Homo sapiens: one gene and its partners. The protein of the gene in region 1 purifies or fractionates together with the protein of each later gene. This does not show direct contact. Each region holds a gene or a part of one and is shown in the gene's direction. Other genes may lie near its edges. The genes, in order: MZF1, ZMYM4, NUDT12, LBR and RNASEH1.

What was found.
Region 2: the proteins of MZF1 (region 1) and ZMYM4 purify together in Homo sapiens (affinity purification with mass spectrometry; one large-scale study listed by BioGRID and IntAct). This does not show direct contact.
Region 3: the proteins of MZF1 (region 1) and NUDT12 purify together in Homo sapiens (affinity purification with mass spectrometry; one large-scale study listed by BioGRID and IntAct). This does not show direct contact.
Region 4: the proteins of MZF1 (region 1) and LBR purify together in Homo sapiens (affinity purification with mass spectrometry; one large-scale study listed by BioGRID and IntAct). This does not show direct contact.
Region 5: the proteins of MZF1 (region 1) and RNASEH1 purify together in Homo sapiens (affinity purification with mass spectrometry; one large-scale study listed by BioGRID and IntAct). This does not show direct contact.

The regions. Positions count from the first base shown.
Region 1 is NC_000019.10:58,563,257-58,567,240, reverse strand, and holds part of MZF1 (myeloid zinc finger 1), read left to right. Parts: intron 1-3,736; coding exon 3,737-3,984. UniProt on the Homo sapiens protein: Binds to target promoter DNA and functions as a transcription regulator. Regulates transcription from the PADI1 and CDH2 promoter. May be one regulator of transcriptional events during hemopoietic development.
Region 2 is NC_000001.11:35,359,209-35,363,192, forward strand, and holds part of ZMYM4 (zinc finger MYM-type protein 4), read left to right. Parts: coding exon 1-238; intron 239-393; exon of another isoform or gene 394-569; intron 570-1,985; coding exon 1,986-2,047; intron 2,048-2,410; coding exon 2,411-2,581; intron 2,582-2,982; exon of another isoform or gene 2,983-3,058; intron 3,059-3,984. UniProt on the Homo sapiens protein: Plays a role in the regulation of cell morphology and cytoskeletal organization.
Region 3 is NC_000005.10:103,555,961-103,559,944, reverse strand, and holds part of NUDT12 (NAD-capped RNA hydrolase NUDT12), read left to right. Parts: intron 1-476; coding exon 477-1,066; intron 1,067-3,846; coding exon 3,847-3,984. UniProt on the Homo sapiens protein: mRNA decapping enzyme that specifically removes the nicotinamide adenine dinucleotide (NAD) cap from a subset of mRNAs by hydrolyzing the diphosphate linkage to produce nicotinamide mononucleotide (NMN) and 5' monophosphate mRNA.
Region 4 is NC_000001.11:225,421,102-225,425,085, reverse strand, and holds part of LBR (delta(14)-sterol reductase LBR), read left to right. Parts: intron 1-996; 5' UTR 997-1,010; coding exon 1,011-1,175; intron 1,176-2,808; coding exon 2,809-3,009; intron 3,010-3,984. UniProt on the Homo sapiens protein: Catalyzes the reduction of the C14-unsaturated bond of lanosterol, as part of the metabolic pathway leading to cholesterol biosynthesis.
Region 5 is NC_000002.12:3,541,089-3,545,072, reverse strand, and holds the end of RNASEH1 (ribonuclease H1 isoform 1 precursor), read left to right. Parts: 3' UTR 1-3,643; downstream 3,644-3,984. UniProt on the Homo sapiens protein: Endonuclease that specifically degrades the RNA of RNA-DNA hybrids.

The DNA.
Region 1 (3,984 bases):
TACCTCCAACTCCTGAGTTTTTAGAATCTTCTTAGCCAGGCGCAGCCGCTCATGCCTGTAATCCCAGCACTTTGGGAGGCGGAGGCAGGTGGATTGTTTGAGTCCAAGAGTTCGAGACCATCCTGGGCAACATGGCAAAACCCTGTCTCTACTAAAAAATAATACAAAAAACTAGCTGGGCATGGTGGCACGTACTTGTAGTCCCAGCTACTTGGGAGGCTGAGGTGGGAGAATCACCCAAGCCAGGGAAGTCAAGGCTGCAGTGAGCTGAGATGGTGCCAGTGCACACCAGTCTGGGCAATGGGGGTGAGACCCAGTCTCAAAAAAAAAAAAAAGAGTCTTGGGAATAAAACTGTGCCTTTTCTTTGCAGCCAGAGAGGTTTATCTATCTATCTATTTATTTATGAAATGGAGTCTTGCTTTATTTATTTAAAGGACAGGGTTTTGCTGTTTTGCCCAGGCTGGTCTTGAACTCCTGACCTCAAGTGATCCTCCTGCTTCAGCTTTCCAAGTAGCTGCAATTACAGGCTCAAGTCACCACACCTGGCTCAGAGAGGTCTTTTTATGTCTTCATCAGGAGACTATTCTGAATAGCTAATACATTCATATGTTAGGAAATTCAAAAGGCACAAGACAGTATACAGTGGAATGCCCCTTCCCTGCCTGGGCCACACAGTCTTACTCTCCAGCAGCCAACACTGCTTGTTTCTTATGTGTCTTTGTAAAAAGATTCTGTACATACAGAAGCAAAGACATTCCCAGACACATGTTCATTCCCTTTTTTTTTTCTTTTGAGATGGAATTTCGCTCTTGTTGCCCAGGCTGGAGTGCAATGGCGCGATCTCGGCTCACTGCAACCTCCACCTCCCGGTTCAAGCCATTCTCCTGCCTCAGCCTCCCAAGTAGCTGAGATTACAGTCATGCTCCACCACGCCCAGCTAATTTTGTATTTTTTTAGTAGAGACGGGGTTTCCCCATGTTGGTCAGGCTGGTCTGGAACTCCCGACCTCAGGTGATCCGCCCACCTTTGCCTGCCAAAGTGCCGGGATCACAGGCGTGAGCCACCATGCCTGGCCCATTCCTCTTCTTTTTTTTTTTTTGAGACGGAGTCTCACTCTGTCGCCCAGGCTGGAGTGCAGTGGCACAATCTCGACTCACTGCAAGCTCCGCCTCCCGGGTTCACGACATTCTCCTGCCTCAGCCTCCCGAGTAGCTGGGACTACAGGCGCCGGCCACCACGCCTGGCTAAATATTTTGTATTTTTAGTAGAGACGGGGTTTCGCCGTGTTAGCCAGGATGGTCTCGATCTCCTGACCTCGTGATCCACCCGCCTCGGCCTCCCAAAGTGCTGGGATTACAGGCGTGAGCCACCGTGCCCAGCCCCATTCCTCTCCTTTAAAACACACATGGGCCCGGCGCGGCACGTCACGCCTGTAATCCCAGCACTTTGGGAGGCCAAGGCGGGCGGATCACGAGGTCAGGAGATCGAGACCATCCTGGCTAACACGGCGAAACCCCGTCTCTACTAAAAATACAAAATATTAGTCAGGCGTGGTGGCGGGCGCCTGTAGTCCCATCTACTCGGGTGGCTGAGGCAGGAGAATGGCGTGAACCCGGGAGGCGGAGCTTGCAGTGAGCTGAGATGGCGCCACTACACTCCAGCCTGGGCAACAGAGCGAGACTCCGTCTCAAGTGCGCACACACACACACGGGCTGGGCGTGGTGGCTCACACCTGTAATCCCAGCACTTTGGGAAGGCGAGGCGGGTGGATCATATGAGGTCAGGAGATCGAGACCAGCCTGGCCAACATGGTGAAACCATGTCTCTACTAAAAATACAAAAAATTGGCTAGGTGCGGTGGCTCACGCCTGCAATCCCAGCACTTTGGGAGGCTGAAGTGGGCAGATCACCTGAGGTCGGGAGTTCGAGACCAGCCTGACCAACATGGAGAAACCCTGTCTCTACTAAAAATACAAAATTAGCCGGGTGTGGTGGTGCATGCCTGTAATCCCAGCTACTCGGGAGACTGAGGCAGAAGAACCGCTTGAACCCAGGAGATGGAGGTTTGCAGTGAGCAGAGAACACGCCATTGCACTCCAACCTGGGCAACAAGAGCAAAACTACGTCTCAAAAAAAAAAAAAATACAAACAATTAGCCAGGCATGGTGGTGCACGCCTATAATCCCAGCTACTCAGGAAGATGAAGCAGCAGAATCGCTTGAACCCGGGAGGCAGAGGTTGCGGTGAGCCGAGATCACACCACTGCACTCCAGCCTGGGCGACACAGCAAGACTCAGTCTCAAAAAAAAAAAAAAAAAAAAAAAAAAAAAAAAAAAACACACACATGGATGCTTATTCTCCACCCTGTTCCACATCTGGCATTTTTTGTGCATCTTCCAACTTAAGTACACAGCAGCAAGTGCTCTACATCTTTGGGTAGCTACACAGAACCCCACTGTGGCTCACTGTGGACACACCATTGAAAACCTTGTATGTAGGTCACTTAGTACAAGGAGGAACACAACTGTTGAAGAAGTACCTAAAAATTGAATTACTTGAACAAAGTGTGGGACATTTGCTGTTTTGATGGATTTTACCACACTGTCTTCCCATTTATGCTTACCAGCAATACATAGGAACACTTGGGTCCCTGCAGTCAGGGTGTGGAAATGGCAGATGAGTTCAGCCCTAAGGTGCATTTTTCTTACTAGGAGGAGATGGAGTGTATTTTATGGGATATAAGCATTAGCTACATTTCCTGTCCTGTTCACATCCTTTGCCCATGTGTCTATGAGGTTATTGATCTTTCTTACTGATTTATTGTAGCTCTTTACTTAGGAGGTTAATTAGCCTTTTGCCTGTGGAGAGTTTTTTGGTTTGCCATTTGTCCTTTTTTAATTTTTTTTGTTTTTTGGCCATTTGTCTTTTGACTCTGATGTGGTTTTTGCTGATTTCCTTTGATGTATTCTAGTTTATCTGACTTTTCTTTGGCGACTTATGGACTTTCTCTCACCACTAAAAGCCCTCACTGCTCTCTCAGTCTTCTTGATTTAACCTCCTCCAGGCTTCCGCCTTCTCCAGGCCCTGATTCTCAGTTGGAGTTGCTGGTGCCTCCTCCTTCACCCAGCGTCTGACGCTGGAGTGCTCACAGTGTGGCTGGGACCCACTTCTCTCCTCTGTAGATACCCACCCCTGTGTTGATCACTTGCAGGCCCGGGTTCTGTGTGCCATGTGTATGCCCTAGAGCCCTTGCTCACGTTTCCCCACAGCCTTCATGAAGTCTGTGTTCCTCAGATGCCCCACAGACATCACAAGCAAGGCACATCCAAACCCCAGACCACTATCCAGGAGCCTGCACCCTCTTTCTGTTGGCTCCACCTCCAGCCTCCGAGACCCACCCACTTCCCTGCATTTGCTGAGACCATCATTTTCCACCTAGACAATGCCCCCACGCTTGCCCTACAGCCCTTCCAAAAACGATTTTTTCCAACCTAAATCAGACCTAGAAAGCTTTTTCACATAGCCCAGTCTTCCTCCTTGTGCTGGGTTCTGTCTCATTATCACCTCATCAGGGAAGTCTGTACAGATAGAATCCCTACCCCTGCATTTGTCGCCTCCGTCTGCCTCTTTGGTCAGTTTCAGGTCCCTGTAGTTCACACTGTGTCCCCAGGGATGAAGTGGGTCCCGGCACGGTGGGCATTCTGTCATGAATGAATGGTCCCCTTGTGTATGCAGGGTTCGCGCTGCAGCTAGGCAGCATCTCCGCAGGTCCAGGTAGTGTAAGCCCTCACCTCCACGTCCCCTGGGACCTCGGCATGGCTGGCCTTTCTGGCCAGATCCAATCACCCTCCCGCGAAGGTGGCTTTGCGCATGCGCTTCTGCTCCCCAGCGATCTGAGGAGTGAACAGGACCCCACGGACGAGGATCCCTGCCGGGGTGTGGGCCCTGCTCTGATCACCACCCGCTGGCGCTCCCCCAGGGGC
Region 2 (3,984 bases), on another chromosome or scaffold:
AATGAAAATGAAATACAAATTCAAAATAAGTTAAAAAAAGACTTTCCTAAACAATTTGATCAGGTTTCTGTCTTTAAATCAATACGGAAAGATTTTAGTCTAGTAAGAGAAAACAGCAAAGAGACATTTTCTGGAAAGGAGAAAAATAGAGACCTAACTTATGAACGTGAAAAACGGTTGGATAAACCCCATAAAGATTTGGATTCAAGGTTGAAAAGCAGTTTTTTTGATAAAGCAGGTAATAATTGTTGGACTTAGAACCATAAAACACAATTAAAAATTACCGATCATAATATATAGCTTTTATTACTTTTGATGTTAAGTGAAGTATGAACGGTTAAATTCATTGTAAGCTTGTCATTTTTCTTTTGTCCTTGTTCTTTGCAGAGTGACTGAATTTCTCCCAGTAACTTTTGGTAATGGTATAAATGGTTGAAAATAGCTCTAAACCTCATTTCTCCCTCCCCTGGTTGCAATGTTTTGATGAGAAAGGCAAGATACTTGAATCACCTGTTCATTTTCTTTGGTTGAACATTGGAACCTGAAGTTGGATTTAACTTCTTTGTGCTGTAAGCACTAATTCAAACTGCTGTCTCACCACTTAGTCCAAATTAGGGAGTTATTTTATTTTTTTAATTTTAATTTAATTTTTTGTTTATTAACTCTCACCTCTATCTGAAAGGGAGTTTTTTTTTAATAAAAAAAACCCAAACATTTCTAATTTATGTTTTAGAAGTTTCTTGAGGTTCCTCCTGAGCCTCTTTGCCCAGTGTACCCTATACTTTAGCTTTAGTTAACATTCTTGAATATATCACATATTTCCTTCTATGCCTTCCTTTCCTCCTGCTATTCCATTTGCCTGCATGTCATTTTCTCTCTGTATATTTGCTTGTGAAAGTACTTCTTATCCAACAATGCCTAACTCATAAACCTCTTCTACTCTGTCATCATTCTAACTGCTCTACATCAAGAATGGTTTCCTTATCTATATTTCCACAGCATTTTCATGCCTCATTATTTATAGTACTTATCACACAGTATTATAGTTCTATATTTGTTTTACCTTACCTACTAGTGTAGGAGTTGAGGGCCAGATTGTATCTTACTCATCTTTGTATTCTTGGGGCCTAACCTGGTGTAGTAAAATAGTAATTCTTCAATAAATGTTCAATAGCTGTGAAGGAAAGCAAGTATTCTATACCAGTCCTTGTATTTCTTCTAACAATGCTAGGAAATGTATGGTAGAAAGAACAAACCAGTATTGTTAAAAAGACAGCTTTTGAGTATGTACAAGTCTGTGCAAGGATATACTATATTTTTCTCTATAATTCAGTATATATTTCCAATATCCCTTCTTGGGGTATGAGAGTCATGTTTCTCAAGGAACATAATGTCTAGTAGTAGAATGGACAAGACAAGTCAGGCCGTAGAAGTGCCAATGTCCAGCTGAATAGCGTAAGATTTAATTTACAGTTAAAGACAGTGGTAGAAGAGTTTGTCATAAGGCAGTTCAAAAAGATGTCTTTCAAATAACTGAAACTGTGTTTTAGGGATTCTTAGAAGAGAGATGATTTTTAACTTAGTGAACAGGGAAGGTTTTATAGAGGAGAGGTGAATTTTTAACTGAGCTGAGTCTGGAAAACTGTATAAAGATTAGGATAGACAGAGGGGACTTGGAATAGAATAAGTAGAAATGGGGGAGAACAAATGCAAGCAATTTTCAGAGCAAAAATAATTTTTTTTTTTTTTTTTTTAGGTTTGAGCAAGGAAAAAATGTAGGGTAAGGCTAAAAGCTAGGTGGGGCCAGATTGTGCAGAACTTTGAGTGAAAATACCTTTTGGGTGTTTTTGGGACCCAGTTCACTCTAACGAGCATCTTTGTTGGAAAAGAGAGGTGATTATCAAATGATAGCTTTTTAGGTCACTCTTTGTAAGATTTGTTATTCATATACATGTGTTTGTTTGTTTTTTTTTTCCTTTCAATAGCTAATCAAGTTGAAGAAACATTACATACCCATTTACCACAAACCCCAGAAACAAACTTTAGGGTAAGTTTTCAGTGTGTATGTAGATTGCTGTAACTGTGACAAGTGTCAAAGTTTTCTTTATGTCAGTTTCTAAATTCTAACAATGTATTAGGTAGAGCACTGATTTTTTTTTTTTAATTTGCTTAATATTTGTTTAAGGTCATCATCGGAGACATTCTAAAAAGCCTCAAATCTTAGGGTCTTTATTTGTATTTGGTATTTGGACATATAACACAATTACTTTTAGGCGTAGGCATAAGATCCAAAAGCTAATGAATGTCCATAGAGTTCTTCATTTCCAATGAGCTTTTCTTTGGGTGTTAAACCTGAAGAGGAATCATTTTAAAATCTGAATATTTATTAATCCTTTATATTGTGTTTTAGGATTCCAGCTACCCATTTGCCAATAAAGAATCCATTGGTTCGGAACTGGGGAATTCCTTTGCATCAAATATTAGAATTAAAGAAGAACCTTTGGATGATGAGTATGACAAAGCAATGGCACCACAGCAGGGACTACTAGACAAAATAAAAGATGAACCTGACAATGCTCAAGTAAACATTTCACCTTTTTTCCCCCCTTCTTTTTGTTCCACACATTGAATTATTCATTTGAGAGAGGAAGTGCTTAAGAAGTGAAATAGTTTGTTGACAGGGTGAAAGGAAACTCTTAAAGAAGGTTGAGGCGATTTGAATTACCATATAAGGCATTAACGAGCTATATGAAACTTTTCCTGAGTAGTAATTAAGGCTTTTAATCATCTTTGTTTCTTAATACCACTGTGATTTTTGCAATGCATTTTAGCGCAAGGCTTTGAGAACTATACAGCAGATATGGTTGAAGATTTATGGTAGTTTATAAGTTTGTGGTGCAATCAAGTTTATGTAGGATAGTAAGCCTTTTGCAGTTAATGCTAATGAAGTACAGGCTATATATGGATTTAAATATTTTTCAGGAGGGGTTAATGGACAGATCATCTTTGGAAGGGTTAATTGATTGAAGAACCAGTTCATTGGATTAGTGGATAGAAGGTAAAGGAGGCTTTGATGAATGATACATGATTCCAAGTTTGAGATCTGTGAGTAATAAGAGTGAAGGTAGAGCTCTGCTATTTCAAGGTTGCTCTGGAGATAAAATCATAGAGATCTTAAAACTGTGAGGTCCTGAAGTCAGCTAAGCTATCCATGCAGTTAATGATGTTGCTGTTGTTGGAATAGAAGAAAAAAGTTATATCAGATGCTGCAATCATTTTGAAGTGCAAGAAGGGGTCCAAGGGACGAATATGCAATAGCAGCAATTATTTGAGGGTATCTGTGTTTTGTAAAGATGGTATGAATTGGCTCTTTTTCTGAAATGACATTTAATCTGGGGGAAGCTTATATTTTCCTATCTTTCTGTTTATATTAGAAGGTTTGAGACTGTCAGACTTCTGTGGAAGTGCTTTCTTTTTCTTTTCTTTCTTTTTGTTTTTTCTCTTTTTTTTTTGAGACAAGGTCTTGCTCTCTTGCCCAGGCTGGAATGCAGTGGTGCAATCACTGCTCACTGCAGCCTCAACCTCCCAGGCTCAAGTGAACCTCCCAGCTCAGCCTCTTGAGTAGCTGGGACCACAGGCGTGTACCACCACACTGGCGAATTAAAAAAAGATTTGTAGAGGGGCCAGACGTGATGGCTCACGCCTGTCATCCCAGCACTTGGCAGGCTGAAGCCAGCAGATCACTTGAGGTCAGGAGTTCCAGACCACCCTGGCCAACCTGGTGAAATCCCATCTCTACTAAAAATACAAAAAATTAGCCAGGCATGGTGGCGGGTGCCTGTAATTCCAGCTACTTCGGAGGCTGAGGGAGGAGAATCACTTGAACCAGGAGGTGGAGGTTGCAGTGAACTGAGATTGTGCCACTGCCCTCCGGCTTGGATGACAGAGTGAGACTTTTTTTTTGGTAAAGTAAGTTGCACAAGC
Region 3 (3,984 bases), on another chromosome or scaffold:
TGAACTACTAAATAACTCATTGGCTAATTTATGTAAAAATGTAGCACAATTTTTCTAACTTAAAACTTTGTAACCTTTTTCATTGAGAAATTATTTCTTTATAGCAAAGCAAATTTATGAGGAGTCTAATTATAAATTTTCCTCCCAAATAGAAAATGCAGATCTCACTATGACTACCAAGGACTTCTTGTAGAATTTTGGTATCTCTTTATAGTGCATAAAGCTTAATACTGTTTTATTTTGTGAGTAATTATCCAGAAAGTGTAAGTATCCACTGTCTCTTAACTTTTTGTCATTTATGATTGTTCTTTTAACCTTCCCAATAGTAAACTATGTAACAAAAGAAAAAAAATCTATGTAATCATTAAAAAGAAGGACTTTAATATGTATCTGGAAATATTTTAGTGAAATAAATACGGAGAAAGTGTTTACTTCCTATTTTACTTTTTCTCCCCAATTTTTTCTTCCATCTATAGGTGTGACAGATCAATTGTCAATAAATCAAGGCAGACTGCACTGGACATTGCTGTATTTTGGGGTTATAAGCATATAGCTAATTTACTAGCTACTGCTAAAGGTGGGAAGAAGCCTTGGTTCCTAACGAATGAAGTGGAAGAATGTGAAAATTATTTTAGCAAAACACTACTGGACCGGAAAAGTGAAAAGAGAAATAATTCTGACTGGCTGCTAGCTAAAGAAAGCCATCCAGCCACAGTTTTTATTCTTTTCTCAGATTTAAATCCCTTGGTTACTCTAGGTGGCAATAAAGAAAGTTTCCAACAGCCAGAAGTTAGGCTTTGTCAGCTGAACTACACAGATATAAAGGATTATTTGGCCCAGCCTGAGAAGATCACCTTGATTTTTCTTGGAGTAGAACTTGAAATAAAAGACAAACTACTTAATTATGCTGGTGAAGTCCCGAGAGAGGAGGAAGATGGATTGGTTGCCTGGTTTGCTCTAGGTATAGATCCTATTGCTGCTGAAGAATTCAAGCAAAGACATGAAAATTGTTACTTTCTTCATCCTCCTATGCCAGCCCTTCTGCAATTGAAAGAAAAAGAAGCTGGTAAGAAATGAATGCTGCTTTTCATTGGTAAAATCTGGTTTTTAGACTTGAGTTGGAGTTGTATGTATTTGCACTTTCCAGGGGCACTCTTTTTCCAGTAAGCAGTGAAATTAGACTGTCTTCATCAGAAACTTCTTAAAGTTCTCACCCTAGGGGACTACTCTCCTGGGCAGTTAGTAGTTCTAATCAGCCCAGACTGATTTCCTGAGAATTAACCCTGGTGCATGATGATCTCATTTGATTCTTCATTGAATAATTCTTAGTTCCTGCTACACGTAGAACATGATGGCAAAGACTTTGACTGTTTTGTTTTGTATTCTGTTGATGGGGCTTTTTATGGCATGGTAAGAAATTGGGGTTTGATTCTAAAGCCATTTAAATGTAACCTAACCTGTGTTTAAAATATTTTTTTAAAAAAGACACTGCACACTGGCTGCATCATAGAGCATAAATTGTACACATGTAAGTAAGTAAGTGTGAAAGTTGGGAGTCTTGTTAAGAGGGAATTGAGTATTACAGGTGCCCAAGTAAGAGATTGCAATGGCTTGAGTTAGAATGGAGGCAGTGGAGATGGAGACAAAGGGAGAATCTGAGGTATTCTCGAGGTAGAAGGGATAGGGCTTGATCTGTAGGTTGAGACCCTTATAAGTGAGAGATGGTGGTAATATGGCATGAATTAAGGTACTGATAGTAGAAATGGAGGAAAGAGGGTATATGCAAGATAAAGTTTGGAGAGAAAATCACTGGTCTTTGCTATTGAATTGGATATGGGATATATAATAATGAAGGAAAAGATTAAGAATGACTGCTAGGCTAGAGACTTTAATAATTTGGTATATAGTGATACCATTTCTCAATAATATAGGATGATGGTTAGAGCAAGGAAAGCAGGACAGACTTGGATTAAAAAAATCAAGAGTTTACTTTTGGGCATACTAAGTTTTAGAAATGGACATTACAATCAGATGTCTGAACTGGAAATACCCATATGGCAGTCATCAACACACAGATACTTAAATCCCAAAAAACTACTGAGATTACTTGGAGAGTTGAGAGGAAGCAAGAAAAACTCAGAATAAGACCTGAATCCCCCTAAATTTAAAGGTAAGCTGCAAGCAGGAGAGCCATCAAAGGAGTTGGAAACAGTGTGGCCATGAGGTAGGAAGAGAGCAAGAGGCCTCAGGGAAACCAAGACAGCAGAGTATTTCCAGGAGGGAGTGGTCAAATGTATTGAATGCTGTTATGAACTTGAGTAAGATGAAGGCAAAGTGGTTTTTTTGTTTTGTTTTGTTTTTTAAAGCATCTTTGTCTTTGGTAATATGAAGCTATTGATGAACTTGACAAGAGAAACGTCAGTGGAGTGAAACGAACAGAAACCAGATTATGGTAGACTGATGAGTTACTGGGAAGTTAGGAATAGGTCACTTGTCAGTGACCACCTTCCCTTAGGTGATAGAGGTCCTTCCAGAGACTGCTTAAATATCTCCTCCTCAAAGTCTGGTGTGGTATGTTTTATTCTCCACACCTGTGGAGAAATCATCAAACTTTTTTAAGAAAATTTATTTTCTTTAGACATATATATATATATATATATATATCATTTTAAGATCAAAAAGATCTGATAAATGAGCTAGTTGCTTGCTTTTTTCCCTTGTAGGAAAACTGAGGCCTTTTAACTCACTTGCTCTATAAGTTTACACAGTTACTTAACTTTTCTGTGACTCAGTTTACTCCTAAAGAAAATGATAATAATAGTATCTATCTTCTTTAGGGTTGCTCTAAACATTAAATAATCTATATAAAATTCCTTGCATGGTGCTTGGCACATTGTAAGTACTCAATAAATGTTAGCTTTTCTTATTGTGATGATTCTGAAATAATGTAAATACCCTAGTGTAAGTTACATATTACAAGGTTACGTAGCAGGCAAAAACGTAATGTTGTCTATTCATTACAACTGTTTTATTTATTTTTCCCAGTTTAAACGATGTTAGAATTTTTGTTATTATTTTGTTCATTTCAAAAATCTGTAGACCAAATAATCTATTTTAGGGAGGGTAACTTTGTCAAGCATTTAACATATAGCATTTCTAGTCTTATTGCCTCAACTGTAATATTTCTGGCCAGGCCATATTAACTTTTTTTGAACTACCAGAGTAAAACCTATAGCTAAAGTGTATATATTTTAAGATTTATCCTATTAGGCATTTTTTGGTAAACAAAGTTAACCATGAATGTAGTAAATGCAGTGTGTTTTATACTGTGTACATGCAGTCTCCAGTTGAAAACAGGTTGTGTTCCACATGGCTTGGACCATCAATGGCATAGTCACCAAGAGAGTGGTGATAGCCTCCTACAGTTTCCTAGTAATATTTCCTTTAGAGTACAAATCTCACTTAAGAACTGACTTTGTGGTATATTTTTATTAAAATCACTATTGTAAAATCACTGTTTGTAAACTTACTCTACACTAGAATCATGAATACCCCAAATTTTAAAATCACCTACAGTAAAAGCCTGATCTAATATAGGATGTAAGATAGATGTCAGTATGTCTATCTTATATGAAAGTTATATTTTATTCAAACAAAAAAATCTAATTTTTGTAATCCAGAAAATTAAATCTTTTACTTTAAAAGAAGAATACGCATTATAAAAATAGAAATACTAAAACCCCTGATCACACAGCTATTCTTATTGTAGCTTGAGAACATTTTACTTATATATTGATTTTAATTTCTTACAGAATTAAAATTTTTGTGCTTTTCTTTTTTTTGAAGGGGTTGTAGCTCAAGCAAGATCTGTTCTTGCCTGGCACAGTCGATACAAGTTTTGCCCAACCTGTGGAAATGCAACTAAAATTGAAGAAGGTGGCTATAAGAGATTATGTTTAAAAGAAGACTGTCCTAGTCTCAATG
Region 4 (3,984 bases), on another chromosome or scaffold:
GGACAATACATCAAGAAGTGCTTAGTTGGTGAAATGAAGGTGATTTGGGAGACAGCTCATATCTGTCCTACTGGCTGCCCCTTGGACGTGGCCCCAGCTAGTTCATGTGGTACTGGGGAAGGTCGGCAGCCCTGGTTTTGTTGTGTGGAAATGTGATTCCGCTGGTCAGCCGATGGAGCGGCATTACTGTCTGGCAGCTGGAAGTACCCAGCTATCAATTGATATTTCAAAAAGGGTGGCAGACAGGCCTCACGTAAGTGGCAGTTCTTGCAGATTGCTTGTGGATTCCTAGAGTATTGTGGGGCTTGTGGGCCATGTTTTGAATCAGAGGAAAAGAATGTTATAATTGGGGGTTGATGGCTGCTGTAGGCTTGAGAGAAGTGAGCTTGGATGAAGGCAACCACCCTGGCTTAGGTGGGTGGTTGGCAGAGTTACTTGGTATGCATTTGTACTTTAGCTGTAAGAGTTGAAAGCTAAATAACCCCCAAATTTATTCATTACAGACTTGGAATTATTTTTCTTCCTATTGTTGGGTTATAGTCATGTTAATTGTACATCCTTGATTTTCCCAGTCTGGTTTATAGTTTGCTGTTTTTAATAAAGGCAATTTGTTAAAAATACAATTAAATGCATTTTTAAAGCCATTGTAAATTGATACGCAAATTTACAAATGAGAAAATGTGTTCTTTGTGAGATTGTGCCTCATTTTTTGATTAGCGAGAACTGTGATCACGGTAGGTGGGTAACATTTTACATAGTGTGAACTTATGGCGCCTATATACATTGTTATAATTAATCTTTAGTGTCACATAGATAACGCAGTGGCTAAATCATCCTCTCAAATGATTCCAAATGAGATTGAATGTAGCCTTTCTGGCCCTAAAATCCTGACCAGTCAATTCTGGAAAGTTGTATTTTAGTGATCAGCCTGTGGAAAAAGACGAATACATAAATGTGTATGTATTGACTCAAATTTTTTTCTTTAAAACTATTCAGGTTAATTATAGAAAATGCCAAGTAGGAAATTTGCCGATGGTGAAGTGGTAAGAGGTCGATGGCCTGGGAGTTCACTTTATTATGAAGTAGAAATTCTGAGCCACGACAGCACCTCCCAGCTTTACACTGTGAAGTATAAAGATGGAACAGAGCTTGAATTGAAAGAGAATGATATTAAGGTAAGAGCTCCTTTGGTTTATCAGAGTGTGTTTACAGTAAGTGGGAAATAACTCTAAGTATGGTTTCTAAGCTCAGGATAGTCAGTTCAGCTCGGTTTGAAGGCAGAGGATTGAGCTCTTGCTTTGGGTCACATACTGTTTTTGGCTCTGGGAATGTATGAATGAGGCATAGTCCTTGTTCCCAAGAAGCTCACACTTACTGGGAAAGACAGCCATTTGCATCTGTTGGTCCCCTGGGTTTACTACGTTCTGTGTCTGGAGTTTGCTGTGGGTGGTGTTGAGTGTATCAAGGGTAGAGAAGAGCCCTGGGCTTCAGGGGAGGCTTTCAGAGGCAGTGACACCTAGCCAAGTGCTGAGAACAAACAGGAAAAACAGCAGTTGATGGGGCTGTTTCTGCAGAGAGGGCAGTATGCCAAAGTCAGGGGTCTGGGGGACACAGTCAGCCAAGTGCTGGAAGGGGGTGGTAGGGGAGGGCTAAGCAGGAGCCAGGCTGGGGGGGCTTTTATATTCCATGCCCAAGGGTTTGGGCTTCATCCTGAACACCAAGGATTTAATCAGGAGAGTGACATTAATTAGATTCGAGTCTAGCCCAGGGCTTTTCAACCTGTCTGGTGAGGGCCTGGGTTTTAAGATATCTGATCCGTAGTATACAAACATTTATATAAAATGCCATAAAAATGAGTTACTAGAAAAATAAAGACATACACAATAGACGACTCACAGTTTTACTATCAGATTCGATAGATATGAGATTACTTTGTCAAAATGCTATAAACATTTCCATACACCTATTTCTCAATTTTGGTACTTGCACAGATTAGTAACGAGCATTTCTAGGACCCATGGCTGAGGATGACACTTCGAGTGCTCTAGACCAGGAATAAAGCACAGAAAGTAAATATTTTAGACTTTATGGGAGCGGCTCCAGGCAGTATGGAAGGGAGCAGACATGGCAGTGTTCCAGTACAACTTTATGGACAGTGAAATTTGAATTTTGGATAATTTTCACACTTCAGGAAATACTGTTCTTTTGATTTTGTTTGTAATCATTTAAGAATGTAAAAGCCATTCTTAGTAGGAAGGCCACACAAAAATTGGGGTGAGGGACTTGGCCTGGGGCGTAATTTGTCTACATCCCTAGAAGCAACATAAGGAGATTCGGAGTAGGTGGGGACACAGTGAAACAGTTCCCAGTCATCCAAGCTCATGTTTTATTTTCAAGATCTGCTTATGTGTTTTGTTCAGAGTGAAACTGTGGTACTGTTTTTTTTTTTTTGGTCTGTGTGCTTATTTATTTTGTCCTGTCGTCTCAGTTTTAATCCATGTTAATTATTACCCTTCTTGCATATGGTGTTGGAAATAAGTACAGCTAATTGGTTTAGATACATTCGTTTCATGGAAATACCTTCAAAGAACAGGAATGGAAAGGCTGCATTTGTCTCATGAAAGATGGATCATTATGAAAGCATTTTCCATTGGCTTCATCTGATCCATTCTCAGATCCTAACATTTCCCGTGCTGATTTTAGAGTTAATGGTAGCAGTTCCTGCCTTTGTTATCCTCTTCTAGTGTGGGTCTGTCTGTATGTGTTATGATTTGTGGTAAAGCTCTTTGCCTTCTTCCCCCTTTCTAGCCTTTAACTTCCTTTAGGCAAAGGAAAGGTGGCTCAACTTCCAGTTCCCCTTCCAGACGCCGAGGGAGTCGATCAAGGTCACGCTCCCGATCCCCTGGTCGACCACCTAAAAGTGCCCGCCGATCTGCTTCTGCTTCCCACCAGGCCGACATTAAGGAAGCAAGGAGGGAAGTGGAAGTTAAATTGACTCCGCTGATTCTGGTACTTGTGTTTATCCTTATACAGCCTTTTGTCTTCCGCTTTATGTATATATTTACTCAAGTTACTTGCAGTTAATAATATTAAAATGTCACTGAAACATCAAATCTAAGTTGATGACTTTGGGAGTTTTCATATAAAACAAATGTTTGGAATAGAAAGTTTTAAATATCAATGGAAAAGAATGTCCTTCAGTTACCAGAAATGCTATTTAATATTTTAGTTTTTAAAAAAGCAGCGTTCAAATTTGAAATAGATGTAGCTTGTAGATTGAACTGCGTAAGGTTTTTACAGTGTATAAAAGTTCATATCATGTATGAAATGGTAAGACAAACCTGTATTACGGAAACATTCTTACTCTTAGCATCATTATACTTTATCACTTTACCTATTCAAAGATGATTTTAGTGGAATTACTTTCAAGATGTAAGCTTTGAAATATCAGGGTGCATGGAGCCTGTAGATCTTGTACAAATAGTATTTTAGATAGTAGACCAAAGACAAAGTATGTTAAGTAAAAAGAATAAAAGTAATCTTCTATTCACTTAATGTTAACCTCTTTTCTGGATAGAAGGCACACAGACTTTGAGACAGAGTCTTGCTCTGTCACCCAGGCTGGAGCGCAGTGGCGCAATCTCAGCTCACTGCAAGCTCCGCCTCCTGGGTTCACGCCATTCTCCTGCCTCAGCCTACCGAGTAGCTGGGACTACAGGCGCCCACCACCATGCCTGGCTGATTTTTTGTATTTTTAGTAGAGACAGGGTTTCACCGTGTTAGCCAGGATGGTCTCGATTTCCTGACCTCGTGATCCACCCGCCTCGGCCTCCCAAAGTGCTGGGATTACAGGCGTGAGCCACTGCGCCCGGCAACAGACTTTTAATAAACTTTAAAAACTGGATTATATACATACTGCTCAGTAGTCAGCTTTAAGACATTTTAAAATATTGGGATAACCTTTCAGAGTGTATTTTTCTACAT
Region 5 (3,984 bases), on another chromosome or scaffold:
CTGGGCACAGTGGCTCACTTCTGTAATCCTAGCACTTTGGGAGGCCAAGGCGGGCAGATCACTTGAGGTCAGGAGTTTGAGACCAGCTTGGCCAACATGACGAAACCCTGTCTCTACTAAAATTACAAAAATTATCCAGGTGTGGTGGCACGGGCTTGTAGTCCCAGCTACTTGGGAGGCTGAGGCACAAGAATCACTTGAACCCAGGCGGCAGAGGTTGCAGTGAGCCAAGATTGCACCACTGCACTCCATCCTGGGCAACAGAGTGAGACTCTGTCTCAAAAAAAAAAAAAAGTAGTAAAAGTTTGACATGATTATTTATTTAGTTTTAAACCTTTTTATTATAAAAACATACAGGAAGTGACACAAAACAAATGTATAGCTTATTGAATGATTATGATTGTAAGGTGAATAACCTTTGTGTCCACCACCTGGTGAAGAAATAGTACTTTGCCAGATACCCCAGGAGGCTCTCCCAAGTGCCCCTCCAGCCACAGCCCTCTTCTTCTCCCCCTCCTTGCCCCAACAAGTAATCCTGACTTTTACAGAAATGACTTTCTTGGTTTTTTGATGGCAGTTTAGTCTTGTCTGCTTTTTTTTGTTTATTTTTTTATCTACTTCAGTGTCCATTTGCAGTCCCGTCGGCCTCACTGTTTTCCCTGCCGTTTATCTGTTGAAGAGCCTGGGCTGTTTGTCCCATGGCTTCCCACAGTGTAGATTTTGCTGACCACGTGGTCATGGTGTAGTTCAGCATGGTCCTCTATGTTTCCTGCACATTGGCAGCTGGGTCCAGAGGCTTGATGAGCCTCAAATTTGATCCCTTTGGCAGGAGAACAGGCGGTTAGGAGCTTTCCTCAGGAAAGTACCATGTTGACGGCAGCTGATGCTCAGTGCCAAGATCCATTAATTATTTGGGGTTGCAAAATGGTGGTATTCTCATTCTGTCGTTTTGCTTGCCTTTATTAGCTGGAATGGTTTTCTAAGAAAGTGTTTTCTTTTTTATACTTATCTGGTTACCCAGTGGTACAGTTCATATAGGAAGGGCAGGATAAATGCTTGATTCTTTGCTCTTGTACACTAAGTTTTTAAGATAATGCATTAGTTGTCTGTCAAGGAAGGTGAGTGGTGAAGGGTTTTTACATATATACAAGAATTCATGGGCTGGGCATGGTGTCTTATGCCTGTAATCCCAGCACTTTGGGAGGCTGAGGCTGGAGGATCACATGAACCCAGGAGTTTGAGACTAGTCTGGGCAACATAGTGACACCCTGTCTCTACAGAAAATTAAAATAAAATCAGGTGGGTGTGGTAGTGCCTGCCTGTTGTCCCAGCTATTCTGGAGGCTGAGATGGGAGGATCGCTTGGGCCCAGGAGGTCGAGGATGCGTGAGCTGTGACCATGCCACCACATTCCAGCCTGGGCGACAGCAAGTCCTTGTCTTAAAAAAAAAAAAGAATTTGTGGAGTTAAGCATACTTGGTGGGTTTCAATCCGTTGTGATTTTTATCTTTATTTAGCTCAGACTAGCTTATTCGGTCAGTGAGAGGGAGCCTCTTCAGCTTGGCTCTTGCTTTCTTTTGATAAGTGTGCACATGTGTGCATACATGTGTGCACAGACCACACGCACAGTCATTGATAGCTCCCTGCAGCCTGGCATGTCAAGATGCTCTAGGCCCAATTTATAGAGCTTCTGCTCCAAACCTGTCTTAAAAGAAAAACTTTAGACAAGTTAGCAGTTTAATTGAGCAGAAAATAGTTTCTTCAGCTGGGTAGCACTCAGGACCAAAAGTGGTTCAGAACGTTCTCCTGTGCGTTGTGTGCAGGCTGTATTTATTTATAGCCACAGGAAGGGAAAGACACATGTACATGGCCAGACTGACTGCAGGTCAGCCTCCACCTCACATAGGCATGTTTTGGGAGCCTTCAGCATGTGATTGGTGAGACTCTGCTGCTTGTTACAGAAGTGTACTCTCAAGTCAGGTCCCAGTTTGCTTATACATTAAGTGAGGTTATAAGTCACTATGTACAGAGGCAGTTTTAGGCCAAACTTAATTCCGTTTAACACTTGGAATCCATTATTTTTCCCAGAGTCTCTGGTAGAGATGGTATTTCAGATCCAGTTTAGGATGCTCATTGCTATTGCGTTGGTCATTATTTCTAGATTTTTGGACGGAGCTTTAAAAAAATACAAACATTGCACACACATATTTAAAGGAAGAATATTTTCTGAGCCTATATTGATATTCCCAATACAAATTCAGGGTCCTGGGGCCTTTACATAGCCTCCTCTATATGATGTCTGTGTCTCCTGCACTCGGAATCCTGCTTCTCAAGACACAGGACAATGGCATGGAATATCCATCCCTTAATCACTCACTTGTTTTATTCCTCTTTAGCATTTAGCATTTAAAAAAAATACTAATACCATAGCATTAATTGTGATGATGAAAACAGCACTGTGTCTACGTTGTCAGAAAAATTGCTCCTTTTTACCACCATTGACTCATTTCTGTGTGTTCAGGTCTCATAACCAGTCTATAGTCAGTGTCATCTTGGGGACAGTATTCCTTGAGTTTCTGATGTTGAATTCAGTTTTGCTGGATACGAAATTCTTGGCCCAGATTTTCTTTGAGTATCTTGTTTTATTCTGTTTTCTTCCAGCATAAAGTGATGCATGAAAAGCCTGATGAATCTTGTTTTCTTCCCCTGACAGTCATATGCTGTTTTTCCTTAGATGCCCAAAGGATTTTTTCCTTTTTCTGTCAAGTCGGCCGTTTTATTCGAATGTGTCATGTGTTGGTATTGGTTGTCCTGGTCCATATTTGCAAGCGTATGGTGTGCTCTTTCTATGTGTACTTCATATCTGTTATTTTAAGAAGATTTGCTTGAACTGGAGTTTAGTGTTACATTTTTCTTGCTTTGGCTTTTTTCTGTGGGGATCCCTGTTATCTGTATGTTGAAATCTAAATTGGCTGTTCTCAGTGTTTGCCACTGTCTCTTGAATCTCTTTTATCTCTTTCTTTGTTTCTTTTTGAGTTTTAAAAGTTGTTATTGTACCACTTTTGTTTTGTTTTGTTATTTAAAATAGGAACAGTGTCTCACTGTGTTGCCCAGGCTGGTCTTAAACTCCTGGCCTCAAGCGATCCTCCTTCCTTGGCCTCCCAAAGTGCTGGGATTACAGGTGTGAGCCACCAAAGCCGGCCCCACCTTGCTTTTTAAAACAGCTCTGTTGAGGTGTAACTGACAGGTAATGAACTGCACATACGTGAAGTGACCGATGCATTTGCCTGTGAAGCTGTCGCCAGAACATGTCCATCACCACCAACAGCAGTTTCACACCCCGGTCTAAACCGTCCCTCGTGTCCTCCATGTTCAGGCAACCACTGGTCTGCTCCCTCTCACTAAAGGTTAATTTATATATTCTAGAATTTTATCTGAGTGGAATCGCAGAGCAAGTACTGTGGGGGGAGGTGCTTCTACTCAGCATAATTATTTTGGCATTCACCCATTTTGTGTACATCAATAATCCACATTTTGTATTGCATGGATATACCACAGTTTATTTATTTACCTGTTGACCGATATTTCGATTATTTCCAATTTCTAAATAAAAATAAAGCAAATAAAGCTGCCGTGAACATTTATATCCTCGTCTTTGTCTTCTGTTTCTCTTGGGTAAATGCCTTGGAATGGAATGCTTGGTCATATGGCAGGTGTGTGCTCTTTTTTTCTTTTTTTTTTTTTGGAGATGGAGCCTCACTCTGTCACCCAGGCTGGAGTGCAGTGGCGTGATCTTGGCTCACTGTAAGCTCTGCCTCCCGGGTTCACACCATTCTCCTGCCTCAGCCTCCCGAGTAGCTGGGACTACAGGTGCCCGCCACTACACCCGGCTAATTTTTTTGTATTTTTAGTAGAGGTGGGGTTTCACTGTGTTAGTCAGGATGGTCTCAATCTCCTGACCTCGTGATCCGCCTGCCTCGGCCTC